Homo sapiens: one gene and its partners. The protein of the gene in region 1 purifies or fractionates together with the protein of each later gene. This does not show direct contact. Each region holds a gene or a part of one and is shown in the gene's direction. Other genes may lie near its edges.

Region 1 (8,976 bases):
TGACCTCGTGATCCGCCCGCCTCGGCCTCCCAAAGTGCTGGGATTACAGGCGTGAGCCACTGCGCCTGGCCTAATTTTTGTATTTTTAGTAGAGACAGGGTTTCATGTTGGCCAGGCTGGTCTTGAACTCCTGACCTCAAATGATCCACCCGCCTCAGCCTCCCAAAGCGCTGGGGTTATAGGCATGAGCCACTGCGCCGACCCTGAGTTATACATTTTAATCTTTTTTTTTTGAGACAGGGTCTCGCTCTGTTACCCAGGCTGGAGTGCAGTGGTGCAATCATAGCTCACTGCAGCCTTGAACTCCTGGGCTCAAGCTATCTCCCACTTTAGTCTCCCAAGCAGTTGGGACTACAGGTGCACACCACCATGCCTGGCTACTTTTTTATTTTTTGTAGAGAAGAAGTCTCACTATGTTGTTCAGGCTGGTCTTAAACTCCTGGGCTCAAGTGATCCTCCAGCCTCTGCCTCCCAAAGTGCTGGGATTACAAGGCATGAGCCACCACACCCAGCCCATTTTAAATATTTAAACACAAGGTTTGAGGGCCTCTATTTGTACTCCTGCCGCAGGTCCTACATATGTTAGAGATGTGTCTACATAAAAACAAACCATTTAAACAGAGATGAATGTGCTAAGAAGAAGAAGGGCAGGGTGCTATGAAATTTTCTTCCACGAAGACATACTCTAATACAAAGCCAGAGGGGATGCATCACAGGGACAGGTTGCCTAAGAAAGTCATGCTAAACCAAGACTGGTCAGGTGAATAAGAAGTGACCCTGCCTGGAGGTGTGGACAGGGTGGGAATTCCAGGCGGCAGAAACAACATATGCAAAGGTTGTGAGGCAGGAAAGATGTAGACATGTTCACAAAACTGAGAAAAGATCCACGTAGCCAGAGAGTAGAAAGCCTGGAAGGTGGGAAGAACAGTGATAGCTGAGGCTGGAGAAGTCAGCAGGGGCCAGATCATGCAGAGCCTGGGAGGTCACATTAAGGGTTTGGGCTTTATTCTAAGAGCAGGGAGAAGCTACTGAAGGGTTTTCAGTAGAGACATGATGTGATCAGATTTGTGTTCGGAAGGATCACGTATGTCAGCACTTTGTGTTTGTGGAGGAAGGCAACAATGAAATAAGAGTCAGATTAGAGGACTAATGCCGTAACCAAGTTGAGCCTGAGGAATATTTGCAACTGGAAGCACACTCTGAGACAGAAACTTGTGTGCAGGTGGTTTACTCGGGGGGGGGGGGGGGGCACGGGGGGGGACTTTCAAAGAAAGAGTAGCAGGACCCAAGAGAGGGAACAGTTGAATGGCACTGCAGTTGTAATCAGCTGAGCCTAAAGAGCTCTGGGGCTGGGATGGACCTTCAGAGTTGTCCCAAACTGAGACAAAGGGCTAGGCCTCTGTACTTTATAACAACCATTCATTGGATACATACTGCCCCCAGGAAGCGGGCATTGCATTTGGTGAGACAGCTCCCTTTGGCCACAGATAGTGCTCAAGGAAGTACTCAGCTGTGAGCTATCAGCAGCCAACACTCAGCAGCTGGAACAATGAGCATCATGATCCTGAAGCGGGAATCTGGGCTACACACCACAGCATCACTACTCGGGCTGTGAGACTTCAGGGATGAACCCAGAGGCCCCAGAGAGGACAATGCAGATCACACTCTGCCCCCTGGTGGTACTCCTTGGACATAGGGCCAGCTGGTGGGCCAGGCTCTCCCGGCAGGGAACTAAAGAAAAGTGTGTGGCAGATAAGGGGAAATGAGCAGTGCAAGGAAATCTGCACGTGAGCCCCTTGCTCCATCTGCCTAAAGCTAGAGAAGAAAGTAATGGTGGGGAAGAAGAATTCAGAAACGTGGCACTCATTCATTCTTTTATTCAACCAACTTTTATTAAGTGCCTGTTATAGGCCAGGTACTGCTGGGAACTAGGAGAAAAACAAGACTGAAATCATCACTCTAGTGAGGATTACAGAGATATAAAAGTAACTACAGTATAGTAAAGTACAAAAATATAGGCATATACATGGGATAGAAGCAACACAGATGAAATAGATGTTCATTCTAAGGGACGAACAGAAAAGGCCTGTGTGTGTGTGTGTGTGTGTGTGTGTGTGTGTGTGTGTGTGTGTGTTAGAGACAGAGTCTCACTGTGTTGCCCAGGCTGGAGTGCAGTGGTGCGATCTCGGCTCACTGCAACCTCCGCCTCCCGGGTTCAAGCGATTCTCCTGCCTCAGCCTCCTGAGTAGCTGGGACTACCGGCGTGCGCCACCACACCAAGCTAATTTTTGTATTTTTAGTAGAGACGGGGTTTCACCATGTTGGCCAGGATGGTGTGTGTTTAATTTGAGTGCAGATGCCCAGAAAAAGTTCACAGAAGTGCTCTGGAAACTTCAGAGTTCAGTACGTAGGAGAAAAGGAGGCAAGTGGGGATGTGGGGGTGACAACATTAGATAAATAGGAGTCAGATTATGAAGGACATAAGATATCATGTGATGGAAAGAGCCTGGAAGAGATTTTAAGCTTAAGAGTGATATGATCTAATTTTTAATGGTAAATCAAGGGGACAGTATAGGATTTATAGGGAGAGGGGGACTTGGTAATTAGAGTCAGAAAGATATGGATTCAGATTCCATTTCTCCTGCTAACCATTTGTGTGACTTTGAGCAAATGACTCTTTTTTTTTTCAATATACACAAAGCAATTTTATTTGTATGTACTTGTGGTAAACAATTAGAACATTTCATTCATAATAGGATAAAAGTATAAAATATTCATGAATAATTTTTTTTCAGAACAGGAATGGAAGTTTATTAAAAAGCTTTAGAGCAGGAATGAAAGAAAGGAAAGTACACTTGGAAGAGGCCCAAGCAGGCATCTTGGAGGTCAAGTGCGGCATTTGACCTTTGATTTAGGGTGTTATATGTTGGCATACTTCTGGGGTCCTGCCTCCCTTTTTCCTTGATTCTTCCCTTAGGGTGACCGAGCAAATGACTCTTTAAGCCCGTGTCCACATATGTAAAATATAGTTGTGAAACAGAATGAGATTATGCATGCAGAGTTGCTGACACAGAGCCTGGCACCTACTGTCCATAGCATAAACATTATTCTTCTCTCTTAACTTTCCAAGTGGATTTGCATGCACAGTGTGGGGAGTGGCTTGGTAGGGAGAGGGGTTGGTGTTTGGAGAGGCAGGAGTCCAAGAAGTGCCTTAGAAGCTATCACCTGAAGCCAGGTGAGAGATAAGCCCTGAACTAAGGCCCTGGCCATGGGGATAGTTGCAGACTTGAGGGCTAATTGAGAAGTACAATTCCAAAGGTCCTGGCATCTGATTAGCTATGCAGGATAAGAATAGTCTAGACTGATTCCCTTTGGGGCAACTGGCCAGATGATGGTGCCATTTGCTGAGGTAGGAAACCATGAGAGCAGGTGCAGGATTATGGAGAAGATGATGACCTTCAGGTCAACCATGCTGCCACCAGTGTGCACACCTTTAGGCCCAAAGGTTGGCCAAGAGGTATGTGTTTGCAGCTGGGTAAGTGTGGACAGAGTTTGGATCTATGAACTGGGGGGAAAGAGATCCAAATACATATACCTGAGGTTGAGTGTAGGCTAGAGCCTGAGGGGGAAGAGACGGGGACCAGTAGCAAGCCCGTGGCTGGAGACCAGCTCTCCTTATCCCACTATGTTCCAGCATAGAACTCCAAGAAATCTGAGAATCAAGACTGTTTCTGTTGCAAGTGGCAGAACTCCAATTAAAATTAGCTTGAGCAAGAGAAGAAATGCATCAATTCCTGTAACTGAAATCAGGAATCCATTGCTCGCCATCTCCCTGCTCTGCTTCCTCTAGGCTGGCTTCTGTCTCAGCCAGGTTCCTGCTTTGCAGTGCCAAGCTAACACTCAGCAGCTCCAGGCTTATATTCTACCAGCTCAGCAACTCAGCAGAAAGAGAGCTAACTTCCAAAGTTTTAGAAAAAGTCCCAGAGAGGGATCTCATGCCCATCCTTGAACATCCTTGATTGCTGTGGCCAGAGTGAGGAACACAAAAGTTGGCTAAGCTGCAAGCCTACCCCCAAGAGGGGTGACATCAGACCCACATGACAATACAGACTGAGGAGATGGTTCCCCAAAAGAAAATCAGGGTGCTATTACCAGAAAAGGCGAGTGGATGCTGAGCAGACACCCATCATAGATATGCTGAGTTTGAGGTGCTATATAGCATTGTGGGTGATATCCAGTGGTCTCAGGTTGGAGAGAGATGTCCCAATGGAGGTATAGCTTGAGAAATCACCTGAGGACTTTATGATGGTAGTTGGGTGGGCAGATGAGTTTCCTCATTGGATTGTGGAGAGAAAGAATGACCAGGCCGGGCGTGGTGGCTCACGCCTGTAAATTCCAGCACTTTGGGAGGCCAAGGCAGGCGGATCACGAGGTCAGGAGTTGGAGACCAGCTTGGCCAGCATGGAGAAACCCCGTCTTTACAAAAAATACAAAAAATCAGCCGAGTGTGGTGGCAGGCGCCTGTAATTCCAGCTACTCTGCAGGTTGAGACAGGAGAATTGCTTGAACCCGGGAGGCGGAGTGTGCAGTGAGCCGAGATCGCGCCACTGCACGCACTCCAGCCTGGGTGACAGAGTAAGACTCCGTCAGGGGAAGAGGGGATGTGCCGGGGGAGGAGAATGACCAGATCAGAGGACCAAGGAAGAGACCCAGGGGTAGAGAGACTCCACCATTTCATGGCAAGGCAGAAAGGAGCCTTGATCAGGAGGAGAAACGGGGATTTAGGAGTTGGGGACTAAGTGGACCTTAGCATTGGGCACTTGGACTACAGAAAGGCCCAGGACTCAGGGTGTCGCGTCCCCAGGAGGAGGAACTGGAAAGGCAATGCCCAACCCCCTAACTTCTAGACGTCTGGCCCCTGTAGTCTCCCGCCCCTGGCCTCGCCCCTCGTTCCTAGCTTGTTTGCCACCTAGTGTCTCTCCCGGGAGCAAGAGTCCTCAAAGTTACATCATGTGCGGCTGGGAGGGCGGTGGCGGATGGGGGGCGGGGCCTCGAAGTCGGGGGCCGAAGAGTGGACCCAGTCCTCCAATGGGAGAGATGGGTTTGGCGGTTTGGAGGCAGGGGTTGGGGCGGCGGCTGGGCTGACCTGGAGCCTGGAGCCCCGGGGCCGAGGGAGCTGGCCTGCCAGCGGGGCGGAGGAAAGCTAGTGCCAGCCCTACCAGGTTCCGCCCCCGCGCCTGCCCCCCTCCTTTTTAAGCGCCTCCCGCCAGCCTCTGCTGTGGCTCGCTTCGCCGCGCTCCCTCCTTCCCCGCCTTCCATACCTCCCCGGCTCCGCTCGGTTCCTGGCCACCCCGCAGCCCCTGCCCAGGTGCCATGGCCGCATTGTACCGCCCTGGCCTGCGGTGAGTGACCCCCGGCCCGGGGCCCACCCGCACCTTCCGCTGCGCTCGCCCCCTCGGGGCTGCCAGTGGCGCTCTCCTGCTCTCAGCCTCCGCCAGGTTTCCCATCCTAGGCGGAGGCGGGCAGGGGCGACTGCTGTGGGTCCAGCCTCCCGCGCCGCGCGTCTCTTGGGAGGGCAGCCGGCCGGTGCTCCTCGTTTCCGCCTGCACCTCCCCTTCTCTGCCTCGCTCGCCTCTGACCGCGCGATCTCTATCTGCCACTCTCAGAACTTCCTCTCTCTCCTCGCTCCTCTCTGCTGAGCCAGGTCTCCGCATATCCTCCTTTCCTTCCCAGATACCTCCCTCGGACCTCTAACGGGCTCTCAGCCAGCGCCCCAGGGTACTTCGAGAGGCAGCAGGGCCCTGGGGACAAGGGTACGTGAGCCCCGGGAGACTAAGCTCAGAGCCCCCTAAAGAAGGTGGAAGGTTAAATATCCATTCCCGGCCTCTCCCGGACTGGAAGGACTGGAACCTGGCGGGAAGTCCAGAGCAGCCCGAGGGACCTGGGCCCAGGGGAGGGAGGCAAGCAAGGTGGGAGGAGGGCGCCAAGTTGCCTTCGTTTCTTACATAGCTGGCTTCTTCCTCCGTCCAGGCCTGGAGCCCCCAGGCTCGTCCTGTTTGTCTGCCTGTCCTCTTAGTCTCCTATTTATTCTCTGAGGCCTCTCTTCTCAGCTTTTGTCCCAGAGTCGGAAGTGACCCACATCTGTCGCACAGCCCGTTCCACTTGGGCAGCCCTTGTGGGTGGTCTCTGAAGGAAACGTCCCACTTAGAGGGCTGCAAGAGGGTGTGGGGGCTTCACAAGAGATAACGTGAGCCAGGCTCCAGGGAGAGAGAGGCTGTCCTCAAGACTGTGTGCTTGAAAACTGATGCTCACGGAGAACTTCCCTCTGAGGCAGGAACAGACCCAGGTCCCAGTAGCCCTCCTCCCCTGCCCCTGGGGCCACACTGATCATCTATCCTGCTTTAGCGGAAACCACCCCAGCTTCTACCCCAGACAGACTCAAGCTCCCGTATCCATGCTCTGAGCTTTCTTCCTTCCCCAGGCTAACACCCTCTGAGTCTGAGCTGCCAGCAAGCTGCTGTTCCACCCTCCCACCAACACCAAAGCTCTCTAGGCATGTGGCCTCTAGGAAGAAGAGCCAGGGGAAGCACGGGGTCACGTGGTCCTGGGTGTGGGGGCAGTTTCTGATGGGCGAGGCCTTGATAGAGGAGGAGAGTAACATCCCCTTCATGGTCTTTGCTCTCTCGGGTTTACTCCACCTTGAGTCCAGGCCAATCAGAGCAGACGTTGCTTCTCTGTCTCCCAGGGCCATGAGAGGACAGACAACAGGACGCTGACCTCCTGAGAATTAAGCCCATGAACCCCAGCCAGTGACACTCATTCCCCAGTGGTCAACCTTCCGCAGAGTTCAGAAATACTTACCCGAGGGCAACATTTTATGCAACCATTGTTGGTCCAAGTGGGCAGCAGCAGATCAGGGCCTGGAAGCCCAGCATCCAGTCACCTATTCTCTGTGCAAGAGCCCTCATCTAGAAACCTGGCACTGGAAAGACTGTGACCTTTGCTTGGGGCTTTCATAGTCTTACAGCATACACACCAGAAGGAAAGAATAAACACAGCTGCCATTTTAATTTATAAAAAACTATACTTGAAAATGGAAATAAAATGGATGAGGCTTCAAATACCAGACATATGAAATTGTCACCTGGGCCCAACTTCTTGTCTTGACACTTGGGCCAAAGGCCCCTACTCATTTCTTTTTTTTTTTTTTTTTTTTTTTTTTTTGAGACAGAGTCTTGCTCTGTCGCCCAGGTTGGAGTGCAGTGTCCCGATCTCGGCTCACTGCAACCTCCACCTCCCGGGTTCAAGCGATTCTCCTGCCTCAGCCTCCTGAGTAGCTGGGACTAGAGGCACACGCCACCACATCCGGCTAATTTTTATATTTTTAGTAGATGGGGTTTCACCATGTTGCCCAGTATGGTCTTGATCTCCTGACCTCATGATCCACCTGCCTCAGCCTCCCAAAGTGCTGGGATTACAGGCATGAGCCACCGTGCCCAGCCATCTCCCTACTTATTTCTAAACGTTGATTAAACAGTTAAACATGGGCATGGGCTACACAGGCAGTAACATCAGCATGCCTACATGTATACTTCCACACAGCCAGGCATGTGCCTTTTTTGCTCATTTGGCCATATCTGTCCCTCGCTGAGCAGGAGACACCCTCCTCAAGCCTCATAAAGGCTACAAGATACATGTGTCCTGAACACATCCCACACACCAACTGCAACCTGCTCTTCATGGTCCCTGCATGCAGACATGTTTTAGCAGGCTGCAGCCCAAGCTTTCTGTCTCTCCACCACCTGCCTTGTCCACTCTCGATGACAGCAACTAGCTCATTGCCTCTGTTTCTCCTATAGGCTTAACTGGCATGGGCTGAGCCCCTTGGGCTGGCCATCATGCCGTAGCATCCAGACCCTGCGAGTGCTTAGTGGAGATCTGGGCCAGCTTCCCACTGGCATTCGAGATTTTGTAGAGCACAGTGCCCGCCTGTGCCAACCAGAGGGCATCCACATCTGTGATGGAACTGAGGCTGAGAATACTGCCACACTGACCCTGCTGGAGCAGCAGGGCCTCATCCGAAAGCTCCCCAAGTACAATAACTGGTAAGCCTTGGGCTCCACAACCTGCAGGATAGGTGCACTGAGGCCACTTTGGGTTCACCAAGGCAAAATCAACTTAACTAGAACATCCCAATGGAATGAACAAGAATGAGAGCTTTGGGGTAAACAGACCCAGAAACTGGGATTTGCTTACGCCTATAATCCCAGCACTTTGAGAGGCCAAGGCGGGTGGATCACCAGGTGTCGGGAGTTTGGGACCAGCCTGACCAACATGGAGAAACCCCGTCTCTACTGAAAAAAAAAAAAAAAAATACAAAAATTAGCCCAGCATGGCAGCGCATGCCTGTAATCCCAGCTACTTGGGAGGGTGAGGCAGGAGAATCACTTAAACCCAAGAGGCGGAGGTTGCAGTGAGCCAAGATCGCGTCATTGCACTCCAGCCTGGGCAATAAGAGCGAAACTCTGTCTCAAAAAAAAAAAAGAAAGAAACTGGGATTTTTTTTTTTTTTTGAGATGGAGTCTCACTGTATCACCCAGGCTGGAGTGCAGTGGCATGATTTCAGCTCACAACAACCTCTGCCTCCGGGGAATTGTCTCAAGCAATTCTCCTGCCTCAGCCTCCGGAGTAGCTGGGATTACAAGCATGCGCCACCACACCCAGCTGATTTTTGTATTTTTAGTAGAGACAGGGTTTCACCATGTTGGCCAGGTTGGTCTCAAACTCCTAACCTCAAGTGATCCACCCACCTCAGCCTCCCAAAGTGCTGGGATTACAGGCATGAGCCACTGCGCCCAGCCTAGTTTGTAGTTTGTATTTTATTTTAATGTTAAATGAAGAAGCTGATATAAATAAGATCCTTTGCTTTTTTTTTTTTTCCTCACCAGTTCAGGGAGCTTTTGCCAGGGGCAGAGA
Region 2 (4,573 bases), on another chromosome or scaffold:
ATCCGGAGTGGGTAAGGAGTGTCTTTATGCGATGGCCTTAAACCTTTACTTGATAACTCAAACATGAGTAGCCCCAAAGGCTTGAAGAATGCAAATTTTGATGAACTGCAGTTCCCAGTACTTCCAGCTTAACTGGATCCCTTTCTACATGTAGTGATGTCCTGTAGCTTTCACCTTTGAGGTGCTTTTACTCTGTGTTCTGTATCACATCCCTGATTTCTCATCAGGTAGGATGACCATGTATCATCTCCAGTTAACATCTGGGGAGATGGGTTTCTGGAGAATAGAACAGCTCAGCAGTGTTCACTCAGCAGGTTAGCTGTAAACCGTGATCAGACTCTAGGTGACTGAACTCCAGCCATACGGTTAAAAAGACCTGCGTATAGTGGGAAAAGCATTGATTTGGAGCAGACCAAGGTTGAAATGCCAGCTCTGCCACGTGCCAGTTGCATGATTCTGGGCCAGTGAAAGCACCTCTATGGACCAGTTGCTCGCCTGTCAAGTGGGGATAATGACACGCACATTGTAAGGCTGTTGGGAGGATGGGATGAGAGAGAGTGGATGTGGCACTGAGCACAGAGAGTGTGCAGCAGGTGGTCCACCAGGAATGTGCACTGAAGATGGCAGGAGCCCTGCTGCCCTCCTTCAGCCTGGGAATAGAAGCTCTGGGAGTCCACGGGTTCCAGTCAAGCTCAGGAGGTGCAGAGGTCAGGCCAGAGATGTCAGGCTGGGGCCAGAGGGTGTGCAGGCTGGGCTGCTCTACCATAGCCCAGCTTCCCTGGATGACTGCATGTGGGTGAAGTGGGGTTTGACTCTTCTGCACTCATGATGACACCATGATGTGCAACTCCAGCCCCCTCTGAAGTCTCTGTTGATAGATGTGTACCACACTTCTTGGCTTACAATATAGACCTGGACACTTCAGTAGCCATTGCCTTCCAAGAGAATTTATACCAATAGGATAAAGAGTTCTACTAGGAATTAGAGGTGGGCAGATTCAATTCGACACCCTCTTGATATGCTAAACGTAGCACCTCTTTCCAGGCACAGTGTGAACATATGTCAGTTCAGTAGGTAGGTGTTGAGGCTCACCTTGTTTACAGTCTATGCAGCTTGCTCAATTCACAGCAGCCCCCTTGGTGGCTGAGAGGAGGGGAGAAAGCTTAACCAGATTCCCGTTGTACAAATAGTCATAAGGTGACTTTTGAATTTGTGTGAATTGATTGACATTAATGAAAATGAGTGGGTGACCTTAGTTCTTCCTTGCCAAAGGATTCTTTCTGGTCAAATCCTGCCATTTCTATATGACAATGCAATTTGCTGGGAAGACGGGGATGTGTGTGCAGGGGTAGATGTACCCTGGCTATACCTGGAGCACAGGGACTTATTGGCTACACCTGGCCATCAACAAGATCATCCACCTGGAAGTCCATTAGAATGACCTGGGGCTCCAAACACACCCTGCCCAGGCCCTACCCATACATTCTCTGTTTGGCCTGGTGGGGCTTGGGCATGTTACGTTTAAAAAATCTTGAGTGATTCTGAGGTGGAGTCATGGCTGTGGCTTCGCTGTGGCATTCTGGTCTGCGTGGAGCCCTGAATGGCAGGGTTTTACGGCAAATGCAATGACTGCCCAGGGGCTTCTAAGTGACCCTGACCTTTTTCCCAAGTGTCCCACCTCTGAACAAGCCTCTGGCTATTTTTGCTTCCTCCTTTGCCACTAAGGGAGCTACTGTGAAAAAAAAAACAAAAACAAAAAAGAAAACTTGGTATTTGAGAGAATCTGGGTTGCCTATGGAGGAAGGAAGGAGGCTCTAGAAGACAGAAGGAGGGGAGCAGATCCTGGCCAGGTTCCCAGGCTGAGCCAGACTGCCCTGGAGACCACATCCACCACCCACGAGAAATGCCCATCCTAGGCCAGTGGGCCAGTTTTCCTGGCTTTTCTCTTTGCCATGCCCTTCAAAATCCCACCAATCTATAATAACTGGGTTAGTGTGAGCTGCTTCTTCCATCTTAGGAAAATTCCTGTAAGCATATCCTTAGGTTATTTTCCCTCTGACCCCTGCTGAGAGGAGGTGCCCCAGGGAATGAGGAGGGGGTTTATATCGGTATAGGGGCTCCTGGAGGGTTCGCAGGCCAGTGTGGAACGTACAGCTGCATGGGGCTCAGGGCAGGCTGAGGAGGGTCAGGAAAGAGAGGCCCTGGGAGAGGGAGGGTCAGGGCACTGTACTCAGAGTGCAGCCGAATGAGACCTTGCCTGGCCCTGACACCAGGTGAGAGAAGGGAAGGTCATTTACTTTTCTGCCCTGTCTCTGGGTCCCGCTCCTGGGCTCCAAACTCCAGCTACTTCCCTGACTCATCTGGTTTACCTGGGTGCATGGAGCATGTGGTCATTGTGGGATTAGGCCTCAACCCACTGTGCAGTATGGGACCTGCTTGTCTATCGGGAAAGCTCTCACAGGCTTTGCTGCCTAAGGATGGCGGTGAGGTACCGGAGCTGCCAGGATTTCTCTGCAGGCCCCTCAGTGAGTGTCTGATCCACACGTTCTGACAGAAGGAAGGTGAGGTGTGCAGGAGGCAGGGGCAGTGAGGACAGGCTGTGGAGTTCCTCACCTGGTACAACTGAGTCATGAAGGAAGAATCGGGCCTTGGTGAGAGCTAAGGGGCTACTGTTCTCTTCCAGATGCGTGAGGGATGACACCTACGGACCCTACTCCTCGCCATCTCTTCGCATTGCCCGCTTCCGGTTCAGGGCCTTCCACTTCCTGAACCGCTTCCCCTCCGTGTACCTGCGTTGTAAAATGGTGGTGTGCAGAGCGTATGACCCCTCTTCCCGCTGCTACCGAGGCTGTGTGTTGAGGTCGAAGAGGGATGTGGGCTCCTACCAGGAAAAGGTGGACGTCGTCCTGGGTCCCATCCAGCTGCAGACCCCCCCACGCCGAGAAGAGGAGCCTCGGTAGGTGGTCGCTCTCAGACCCCACTGTCCACCGGGGCGCAGACCCCTGACTCGGGGACTTGGGATGTTCCTCTTGGTGTCATATTCCAACTCAGATTGAGCCCTACATTGTGCTGCACCTGGTCATACGGAGTTGAATCAGACCTGGTTCCCGCCTCCCCCAAGGCTCATGGTCCTTGGAGGACCCGTTGCAGGGTGAGGTCAAGAGAGTTCTGACCTGGATGGCCCATAGACCTGACGTCCCAGAATCCATGCTTCTCATCTGCAAAATGAAAATGTCAATACTTACTTCTTAGCACTGTTGAGAGGGTTACTTACATAAAGGAATTTTGGTGAAACTGCCTCAGCCTGTTCCTGGTGCAAGTCATTGAGTGCTTGGTAAATGGTAGTTTTTGTTACTCCTGTTGTTGTCACCCATGTTAACAACACCAATGATGACAGTATTCCTCACAACGATAATAACTATAACAGCAGACGTGTTGACATCAGGGTCTAGACAGGGCCATGGGGACGCCAGCTGCATGGATTTGTCCTGATCGCTGGCAGGCTCTACTGGGCACAAGCTATGTCACTTTTCTTCTCCAGAACAGGGAGTGCATCTGCTGCTGTGCTGCTGTGTTGCTGTGCGGCTGTGCTGCTGTGTTGCTGTGCGGCTGTGATGCTGCGCTGCTGTGCTGCTGTCATGCTGTGCTGCTGTGATGCTGTGCGGCTGTGCTGCTGTCATGCTGTGATGCTGTGCGGCTGTGCGGCTGTGCGGCTGTGCGGCTGTGCTGCTGTGTTGCTGTGCGGCTGTGCTGCTGTGTTGTGGGCATGGACGAGGGAATGAATGTTTGCAGAGTGATGCCCAGGATTTCTGGCCCAGTCTGGGGCTAGGTCAACAGATGTGGTGGCCATGGTGTTGGGGGTGGGTGGGGCAGCAGTAGTTGTCACAAGCCCTCTCCTTGGTCAGGGCGCTGCCCATGGGGCATCTTTGACAGCTCTTTCCTCTTGATTCCTATTCAGGCCGTCTTTATGTCCACCTGAGTCCAGACTCTTTCCTCACTTGTTCATTCATTCAATGCATGTTTAATGAAGGACTGTTATGCACCAGGAGGCAGATAAAGTCTTGGAGGAAAAGATGCAATTCAGAATAAGTCTCATGAATGGTGCATGCAATGGGGTCGGAGTGAGGAGCAAAGGACATCAGGGCAGGGCGAAGGTGCCTGTGGGCACAGGCTCACTTCCCTCCTCTCCCTCCTGTTCCCTGCAGCTGCCGTAGTAGCTCACGTCCTGGGGGCCTCTTACCTGGGACTCTTGTAATCATTTCCCAGCTGGTCTAAAATGCCCAACTCTCTCCCCTCCCATTCATCTGGAGCCTCAGGCCAGATTTGTTCTCCCAAAGCCCAGTTCCCAGTTCCTGCTAAGAAAAACTTCCCTGACTCTCCTTGGCTGATAAACGTGAAATCTCTCTAGTCTGACAGTCAGCTGCCCATTGGGGTCTGGCCTCAGTTTCCCATTCAGCACTTCCTTCTCCAAGTTTTTTATCCTTTCCCACCAAACAGTTCTGATTGCCTTTACTATGCCCAGGGGGCCATGGCCTTTACTTGTCTTCCTCTCCTCCTCTGCCAGGCTCTGTCC
Region 3 (8,608 bases), on another chromosome or scaffold:
ATGGTGTGAACCTGGGAGGCGGAGCTTGCAGTGAGCCAAGATTGTGCCACTGCACTCTAGCCTGAGCAACAGAGCGAGACTCCGTCTCAAAAACAAAAACAAAAACAAAAAAATTAAGCCTGTCAGGAGAATCGCTTGAACCTGGGAGGTGGAGGTTGTAGTGAGCCAAGATCGCGCCACTGCACTCCAACCTGGGCAACAAGAGCGAGACTCCATCTCAAAAAAAAAAAAAAAGGAAATACAAAATGCAGAAAATTATTTTTATTTATATATATATATTTTTTGAGACAGGGTCTTGCTCTATCACCCAGGCTGGAGGGCAGTGGCACAATCCTGGCTCACTGCAACCTCCAGCCTTACCCTCCCGAGTAGCTGGGACCACATGCATGCACCACTGCCCTCAGATAATTTTTTGTATTTTTGGTAGAGACAGGGTTTCACCATGTTGCCCAGGCTTGTCTCGAACTCCTGAGCTGCCACCACGCCAGCTAATTTTTGTATTTTTTAGTAGAGACGGGTTTCACCACGTTGGTCAAGCTGGTCTTGAAGTCCTGACCTCAAATGATCCATCCGCCTCGGCCTCCCAAAGTGCGGCCTCCCACCGTGCCTGGCCAGCCCTTATTTTTAGGTGCTAACATTTTTTCATGATTATAAAAACAATATGTGCTCAGTAGAACAGTTTAGAAAATACAAGGCTGGGAGTGGTGGCTCACGCCTTTAGCAATCCCAGCACTTTGGGAGGCCGAGGTGGGTGGATCACTTGAGGTCAGGAGTTCGAGACCAACCATAGCCAACATGGTGGAACCCATCTGTACTAAAAAAAATACAAAAATTAGCTGGTGTGGTGGCACACGCCTGTAGTTCCAGCTACTCGGGAGGCTGAGGCATAAGGATCGCTTGAACCTGAGAAGCAGAGGTTGCAGTGAGCCGAGACCATGCCACTGCACTCCAGCCTGGGAGACAGAGTGAGACTCTGTCTCAAAAAAAAAAAAAAAAAGTTTAGTAAATACAAAATGCAGAAAATTATTTTTATTTATATATTTATTTATTTTTTTGAGACAGAGTCTTGCTCTATCGCCCAGGCTGGGGACAGTGGCACAATCTCGGCTTACTGCAACCTCCAGCCTTACCCTCTTGAGTAGCTGGGACCACAGGCGTGCACCACTACGCCTGGATAATTTTTTGTGCTTTTGGTAGAGATGGGGTTTCACCGTGTTGCCCAGTCTGGTCTCCAACTCCTGAGCTCAAGCAATCCACCCACCTCGACCTCCCAAAGTGCTGGGATCACAGGCGTGAGCCTCTGCGCTCGGCCTAAATTTTTTTAAATAAAAATTTTATTTACGGTCAGGCGCGGTGGCTCACGCCTGTGATCCCAGCACTTTGGGAGGCCGAGGCGGGTGGATCACGAGGTCAGGAGATTGAGACCATCCTGGCTAACACGGTGAAACCCCATCTCTACTAAAAATACAAAAAATTAGCCGGGCGTGGTGGCGGGCGCCTGTAGTCCCAGCTACTCGGGAGCCTGAGGCAGGAGAATGACGTGAACCCGGGAGGTGGAGCTTGCGGTGAGCTGAGATTGGGCCACTGCACTCCAGCCTGGGCGACAGAGCAAGACTCCGTCTCAAAAACAAAACAAAACAAAACAAAACATATATATATATATATTTGAGAGATGAAGTCTCGCTCTGTGGCCCAGGCTGGAGTGCAGTGGCTCAGTCTCAGCTTACCACAACCTCCGCCTCCCGGGTTCAAGCGATTCTCCTGACTCCCAAAGTGCTGGGATTACAGGAGTTACTGCACCAGGCCCACTTTATTTTTTAGAGCAGTTTTGGCATCACTGCAAAATTGAGCTGAAAGTATCAAGAGTCCTTTGTACCCCTCTCCACACACAGACACAGCCTCCCTATCAACATCCTGTCCAGAGTGGTAAATTTCTTGCAGTGATGAATATACAGTGACACATTATCAACCAAAGGCCATAGTTTACATAAGGGCTTCCTTTTGGTGTTGTACATTCTATGGGTTTTAATTTTTTTAAATAAAGATTTTATTTTTTAAGAGCAATTTTAGTTTCACAGCAAAACTGACAGGTAGGTCCGGAGAGTCCCATATACCTCCTTCCCCCATGCAGTCACGGCTCCCCTGACTACCAACATCCCTATCAGAGTGGTAAATTTGTTAAAATCGATGAACCTACATTAACACATCATTACTAACCAAAGCCTGCGGTTTACATTAGAGTTAGTTCACCCTTGGTGTTTACATTCTGTATCTTTGAACAAATGTATACTTACAAGTATCCACTATTACAGTATCATGAGAGTATTTTCGCTACCGTAAAAATCCTCTGTGCTGTCTGCCATTAGTTGTTTTTTGTTTTTGTTTTTTTAATGTGGGGTTTTGTTTTGTTTGGTTTGAGACAGAGCCCTCGTCTGTCGCCCCGGGCTGGAGTGCAGTGGCGCCATCTGAGCTCGCTGCAATTTCTGCCTCCCAGCTCAAGTGATCCTCACACCTCCGCCTCCTGAGTAGCTGGGACTACAGGTGCACACCAGCACACCTTGCTAATTTTTTGTATTTTTTGTAGAGAAGGGGTTTCACCATGTTGCTCAGGCTGGTTTGGAACTCCCGGGCTCAAAGGATCCAACCGTCTTGGCATCCCAAAGTGCCAGGATTACAGGCGTGAGTCACTGCGCCAGACTTAAAATGTGGTTGTTAATGACTACGTCTGTTGCATAACCAAAATCCCCTATTATTGGGCATTTAGATTGTTTCCTTATCTGTTTTAAAGAGGAGAAAACTAAGGCCCTTCACTTGACAAGTCACTTGTCCAAAGTCACCTGGCTAAAAAGTAGGCAGAACTGATATTAGAAATCTGGTCTGACTCCAGAACCCATTCTTAGGCCACCACACTGCGTCTAGAATTAATAACACACCACTTAACCCCGTTAGATCAGCTCCCCTCAACTTGAAAGATAGTGACCAGGCACCTCCACAAGCAGAGCAGCCAAGGATTCAAGTATATGTTGAGGAAGGCAGGCAATACAGAAAAAACTAGGTGGCTCAACTGAGATGGAACAAGCAGAAAATGCAAAGGGGAGGTCCAGGAATAGAAATAAACAGGAGGTAGGAGATGGGTACACAGAATGCTGGTTAAGACAAAGAGAAAGCTGGATTTGGGAAATCTAAAAGTAAGAAACTCTGGCTTTTATCTCTGTATGTAGGAGGGAGCAAAGATAACCTCAAGGCCATGTGGGGAGCTAGCAAGGATAAGGTTTCTGGGAAAAGGAATGAGAAAAGGGAGGGTAAACTCCCGAGGACTACAAGAGCAGGAGAGGCTTTGTGTGGCCAGGAGGAGAGGCCAGAAGTCAACGAGGCAGGCTAGAATAGGCACTGGATACCAAACCTTCCTGTTCCTAAGGAGACTTCCTTCCAGCCTGAGCCTCCTCTAGTAGTTCGGCTACTAAATGCTCTCAGCCCTTAGGGGCTGTGGTGGGAAGTGGGGAGCGGGGATTGTAAAGTGCTCTAACTATTAATATAATGCGGACTGAGAATGGATGCTGGCACAATTTTTTAAAGGCAGTAGGCTTAACGCTAGTGCCACCTACCCCTACTCCACTTCTCTAGCCTAACCTCAGCCACACCCACATGCTAAGGACCATCCAGGAGGGGGGAGCGTGTAGCGCGCCTGCGTGCTCGTGCGCACGAGAAGCAGAGAGGCAGAGAAGGAGACAAAAAGAGATAGGGGGAGAGAGAGAGAGAGAGCGAGAAGAGAGAGACAGACAAGGACAGAAAGGGGGCTGGAGGAGAAAGAGAGAGAGAGATACAGAGAGAGAGAGAGAGAGAGAGAGAGAGAGAGAGAGAGAGAGAGAGAGAGAGAGAGAGAGAGAGATCAGCCCTGGTGAGGGAGGAAAACTCCATAGATAATACAGGGAGCTCCTGCAGGAAGACTCAGGGAGAAGATCCCAGAACTTACCCTAAGACTGTTGAGAGAGTAGGGGGTAGCTTTGCAGGACCTGGTTTGGGGGTCATCAAGCAGTAACGGTTACTGCACAGGCGTTGCCACTGAGCCAGAGCCATTTAACCCGACCTGTGTGGCTGGGGATCAAGCTTCAGATACCCCATAACTCTGACTCTCAGACTGTTTTGGGGGCCCCGTGGCTGCAGACAAGGGAAGGAGGGGCACGTGAGGGCTGGGTCCCTGCCTCCCCCCGTCCTCCGCTGTCACTCACTACCCCAACAGTCGCCCAGGGGGCGGGACCCGGAGAGGTGGGGATGGGGGAGGGTAATCTTGGCAGGCGCCTGCTGCATGGCGTAGGTAGGGACTATTGAGGGGGGCGGACGCCGAGGGGGTGAACACGAGTGGGAAGCTAAGAGAGACACGGGGAGGGGGAGGGGACCGGGAACCATTTGAATGAGAGGAGGGGATCACGGGTAGAGTGGGCTCCAGGAGGTAGGGCGAGCAGGGTGTGACGGGGGCCAGACTCTTGAGCCAGGTAAGGGGAGCAGGTGCGTAGATCTGTGTTTTTTGTGGGTGAGCGCACTCGGCCCTTGGGTGGAAAGGGGACGCCGCCTTTCCCGGGGGGCCGGCTTCAAAGCTCCAGAGGCTATCTTTTCCTTCTCAACTAACGGGGCCCCGGGCGGGGGCTCAGGCGCCGTCTCTAGTGGCTGCATTCCACTCCGCAATTTCCAGGCGGCCACTGGACTGGGAGTCTCGCGCCGGGGGCCGGCGCTGTCTCGCGAGCCCCCTCCTCGAGCCAGCCAATGGGGTTGGTTGCTGGCACCGCCCGCCCGCCTGGTGCAGAGCGCTGGGCGCTGCGAGCGGCGCTGCCATTTAAAGGGGCCGCGACCCCTGTCCCGGCTGCTAGGGAGGGAGGTAGAGAAGGAGCGCGGGGCCGTCGCTGTCTGCAGTTCTAGGCTTGTAGCCTTTGCACTAACCCTGCCGCAGGTAGGGGTCGGGCCTGCTCAAGCCGAACCGAACCTGCAAGCGGGATCTTGCAGTAGCCGGGAGGCGGTGGTGGGGGGGTCTAAGGAGAGATCGTAGCTCCAAAATGTCTTCCTGTAAATGCCTGAGGTTGGGGGTGGGCAACAGGAGAAGGGAGGACTGGAGGAGCAATGGGAAAGGGGGACGGGGCTGAGGAAGTGGGCGACCTGAAAGGTAACTGGGGGGAAGGGGTTGCGAAGGGCAGTTTGTGGGGGCGGGGGAAGGGCCGAGGGAGGACCTAGCAACGCGGGGAGGGGGGGTGGGGCCAGACAGGGTGGGTAAAGACTGGGGAGCTGGGGGGCTCCTGCAGAGTGGGGAGGGAATAGAAACTGAGATCGCGGGGGCGGGAAAGGCTCCTGGTGGCGACGGCCTTAGGAGACTCTAAGGGGGCGTTCAGCCTGAGTTGCGGGGGGTAAAAGGTAAGGGGGGAAGGGAATGGGAGTTGCAGTCGAGTAGGGGGGTGGGCGGGTAGAACGACCGACTGCCTGGCCAGTGTGGGCACGGGGCCAGGGCGGGGAACGCCTCTCCCCACTGGGGGCGCTGTATTGGGGGGAGTGGTCATTAGGACTAAAGCCTTCGGAAATGCTTGTAGATTGTGGTGGTGGGGGCTGCTCATGAGAAATCCAAGTGGATGATGGGGTGTGTCTCAGAGCCTATATAAGAAGGAATTCAGGCTAAGACCACCTCTACTGCCCCCTCTTCTACTCCTAATCTGCAGTACATATCCAGCCATACTCATGGACCCCAGTGATTTCCCCAGTCCATTTGACCCATTGACCCTGCCAGAGAAGCCCCTGGCTGGAGACCTACCAGTAGACATGGAATTTGGAGAGGATCTACTGGAATCCCAGACTGCCCCAACTCGAGGATGGGCCCCCCCTGGCCCTTCTCCATCCTCGGGAGCCCTGGACCTGCTTGATACCCCTGCTGGCCTGGAAAAAGACCCTGGAGTCCTGGATGGAGCCACTGAGTTGCTGGGGCTGGGGGGGCTGCTCTATAAAGCCCCCTCTCCCCCGGAGGTGGACCACGGTCCTGAGGGAACCCTGGCATGGGATGCAGGAGATCAGACCCTAGAGCCTGGACCAGGGGGCCAGACCCCTGAGGTGGTACCACCTGATCCAGGGGCTGGGGCAAATTCCTGTTCACCTGAGGGGCTACTAGAGCCTTTGGCTCCAGATTCTCCAATAACACTGCAGTCCCCACATATTGAAGAGGAGGAGACCACCTCCATAGCTACTGCAAGAAGGGGCTCCCCTGGGCAGGAGGAGGAGCTTCCCCAAGGGCAGCCACAGAGCCCAAATGCCCCGCCTAGCCCTTCAGTGGGAGAGACTCTGGGGGATGGAATCAACAGTTCTCAGACCAAACCTGGGGGCTCTAGCCCCCCTGCACATCCTTCCTTGCCAGGTAGGTTGCCTAATTATCTGGAGAATCAGGGCTGGGAGAGGGTGGTGGTAAGGAGGGGTGGCTATGTGCTTTGGGAAGTAGTGGGGAGGAGGAGGGTGGAGAGATAAGTGTAGGGATGTGTGTGGGGAAGGACTTGGGGTTTACGAGGGAGGAGTGGGGTGGTGTGTAGAGGAAGATTAAGGAAAGTAGGGGTGGGCACAGGCTGTGGGGGAGGAATGGGGTAAGGTTTCAGGGAGCGTAGGTTGGGAGGAGTGAATTTGGTGGGAAGGGTTCCCTTTTTCCTACCCCAGTGGGCTTTTGGTGCCAGAGTCCTTCCTTCAGGATTTGGGGGAGTACACCAGGCTTCTTGGTTCTAAGACCTTTACAGCTTTTTGGTTCTAGATGGGAGTGGGATTTCTGGGTTTGATGAATGGTAACTAGGTTCTGGAGCCCCTAACAGCATAAGGATTTCAGCAGAGCGATAGAAATGCAGGGTCTAGGATTGCGTCTCTGATAGGGGAGGGACAACCTTGACTTGAGAGGCTCTAGTGTCTCCCCTCTTCTGCCTAGTGGTGTGCCTCTATCAGGCTGTGACGAGGGTCTTAGGGCTTATATAACCACCTGAATCCAGGGGAAGCTACCCATACACTGATGCTTCCTTTTCCTTTTGCTACCTTTGGGTGGTTGTGTGTGTTTTTCATTGGTAAAATATAAATTCTTAATGAAAGGTATATTACCTGTGTTTCCTTAACCCCCAAGGATTGGGACAGAAAGCTGGTGGGAAGGATAGATTTTTTTTTTTTCATGGAATAGCTGCACGTGCACCCCCCCACCCTTAGTACAGAGCCTGAGGTAACCCTGAGAGGGGCCCCAAGAAGCCACAGGCACTCGAGTTTTCCCTTTCAGTTTTGAGTAAGTTCTTCCCCAGGAATGGAGGCGGGGGTTGGGCCGGGGAGAGGGTGGTGAGGGCAGGCTCAACATTTAGGCTGCCTTCTGCTTCCTTTGCAGGAGATGGCCTGACTGCGAAGGCGAGTGAGAAGCCGCCTGAACGGGTGAGGGGGAGGGGATTGGAAGGAGTCTGGTTCCCCCTTAGCTCTGGGAAGGACAGACCCTTCATTTTCCCTCCCAGATGTTGTTCTGTAGAGAGTGTGTGTAAGGAGAGTTAGGAGGAGGGAGGGAGCACTAGTGTCTACTGCTTGTTGGGGAGAAAGTCCAACCTCCTTTTCTTCCCTCCTCCTAAGGGCTGGGCCAAGGGTCCCCACTCTCCCTTCCCCCTCCCATCTTCTATCCCCCCCCAAACCCTGTACTAGTGTTAGCCTGGCCAGGGTGTCAGTTTTCCTCCCCTCCCATCTTTCCGAGGTACAGAAGAGAAGCGAGCGCGTTAGGAGAGCAGAACCTCCAAAACCTGAGGTTGTAGATTCCACTGAGAGCAGTAAGTAGGATTTGAGGAAGTGTGACCTGGGAGTTCTGGGTGTGGAAAAGGTCCGAAAGTGGCATGCGGCAGGGCATGGATCTTCTAGCTCCTGCCGTCCTGCTCCATGAAGCGCATGAAGTGCCTGTCTCTGCTATGGGTTGGCATGGGAACCAGGGGCAGTGGGGGAAATTGAAAACAAGAGCAGTGAGAATGGCGAGTTTCCTGTTTCAGCTATGCCATCTCTGTCTCCGAATCTTCTCATTTAGAGCCTCTCCCTTTCCCTCCCTGGGAGGTTACAGAGTAACCAAGGGAGAGAGACACCAAGGTCTTAAGATACTGATGTAACAAGGGCCAGGGTGTAAAGGCCGGAACAACAGGGATCCCAGGAGAGGGACTGAACTGTTGGTCAGGGGATGGTTGGAGACCTGGTTTGGTGGCCTTTCTCATGTCCATCCCCCCACTTTCTCAGTTCCAGTGTCAGATGAGGATTCTGATGCCATGGTAGATGACCCCAATGATGAGGACTTTGTGCCATTCCGGCCCCGGCGCTCTCCTCGCATGTCCCTACGCTCAAGTGTGTCACAAAGGGCCGGGCGCTCTGCAGTGGGCACCAAGATGACTTGTGCACATTGCCGGACACCACTGCAGAAGGGGCAGACTGCCTATCAGCGCAAGGGGCTGCCTCAGCTCTTCTGCTCGTCATCCTGCCTCACCACTTTCTCCAAGAAGCCCTCGGGCAAAAAGACCTGTACCTTCTGCAAGAAGTGCGTGAGGGTCTTGGGGGCTATGCAGAGGGCAGGGATCTGGGCAGGAGTATGAGTAAGACAGAG

The links. Proteins that work in one complex are often made in the same cells at the same time.
Region 2: the proteins of PCK2 (region 1) and DMBT1 purify together in Homo sapiens (affinity purification with mass spectrometry; 2 studies listed by BioGRID and IntAct, with this or other methods). This does not show direct contact.
Region 3: the proteins of PCK2 (region 1) and ZMYM3 purify together in Homo sapiens (affinity purification with mass spectrometry; 2 studies listed by BioGRID and IntAct, with this or other methods). This does not show direct contact.

Annotation. Positions count from the first base shown.
Region 1 is NC_000014.9:24,089,033-24,098,008, forward strand, and holds the start of PCK2 (phosphoenolpyruvate carboxykinase [GTP], mitochondrial isoform 1 precursor), read left to right. Parts: upstream 1-5,278; 5' UTR 5,279-5,373; coding exon 5,374-5,402; exon of another isoform or gene 5,403-5,435; coding exon of another isoform or gene 5,436-5,714; exon of another isoform or gene 5,715-5,813; intron 5,814-6,005; exon of another isoform or gene 6,006-6,098; intron 6,099-7,859; coding exon 7,860-8,105; intron 8,106-8,976. Other genes in the region: NRL (neural retina-specific leucine zipper protein), read right to left, coding at 5,436-5,714. UniProt on the Homo sapiens protein: Mitochondrial phosphoenolpyruvate carboxykinase that catalyzes the conversion of oxaloacetate (OAA) to phosphoenolpyruvate (PEP), the rate-limiting step in the metabolic pathway that produces glucose from lactate and other precursors derived from the citric acid cycle.
Region 2 is NC_000010.11:122,640,439-122,645,011, forward strand, and holds the end of DMBT1 (scavenger receptor cysteine-rich domain-containing protein DMBT1 isoform e precursor), read left to right. Parts: coding exon 1-11; intron 12-2,683; coding exon 2,684-2,960; 3' UTR 2,961-3,298; downstream 3,299-4,573.
Region 3 is NC_000023.11:71,250,366-71,258,973, reverse strand, and holds the start of ZMYM3 (zinc finger MYM-type protein 3), read left to right. Parts: upstream 1-4,833; 5' UTR 4,834-4,945; intron 4,946-5,237; exon of another isoform or gene 5,238-5,400; intron 5,401-5,699; 5' UTR 5,700-5,718; coding exon 5,719-6,385; intron 6,386-7,372; coding exon 7,373-7,416; intron 7,417-7,729; coding exon 7,730-7,796; intron 7,797-8,247; coding exon 8,248-8,542; intron 8,543-8,608. UniProt on the Homo sapiens protein: Plays a role in the regulation of cell morphology and cytoskeletal organization.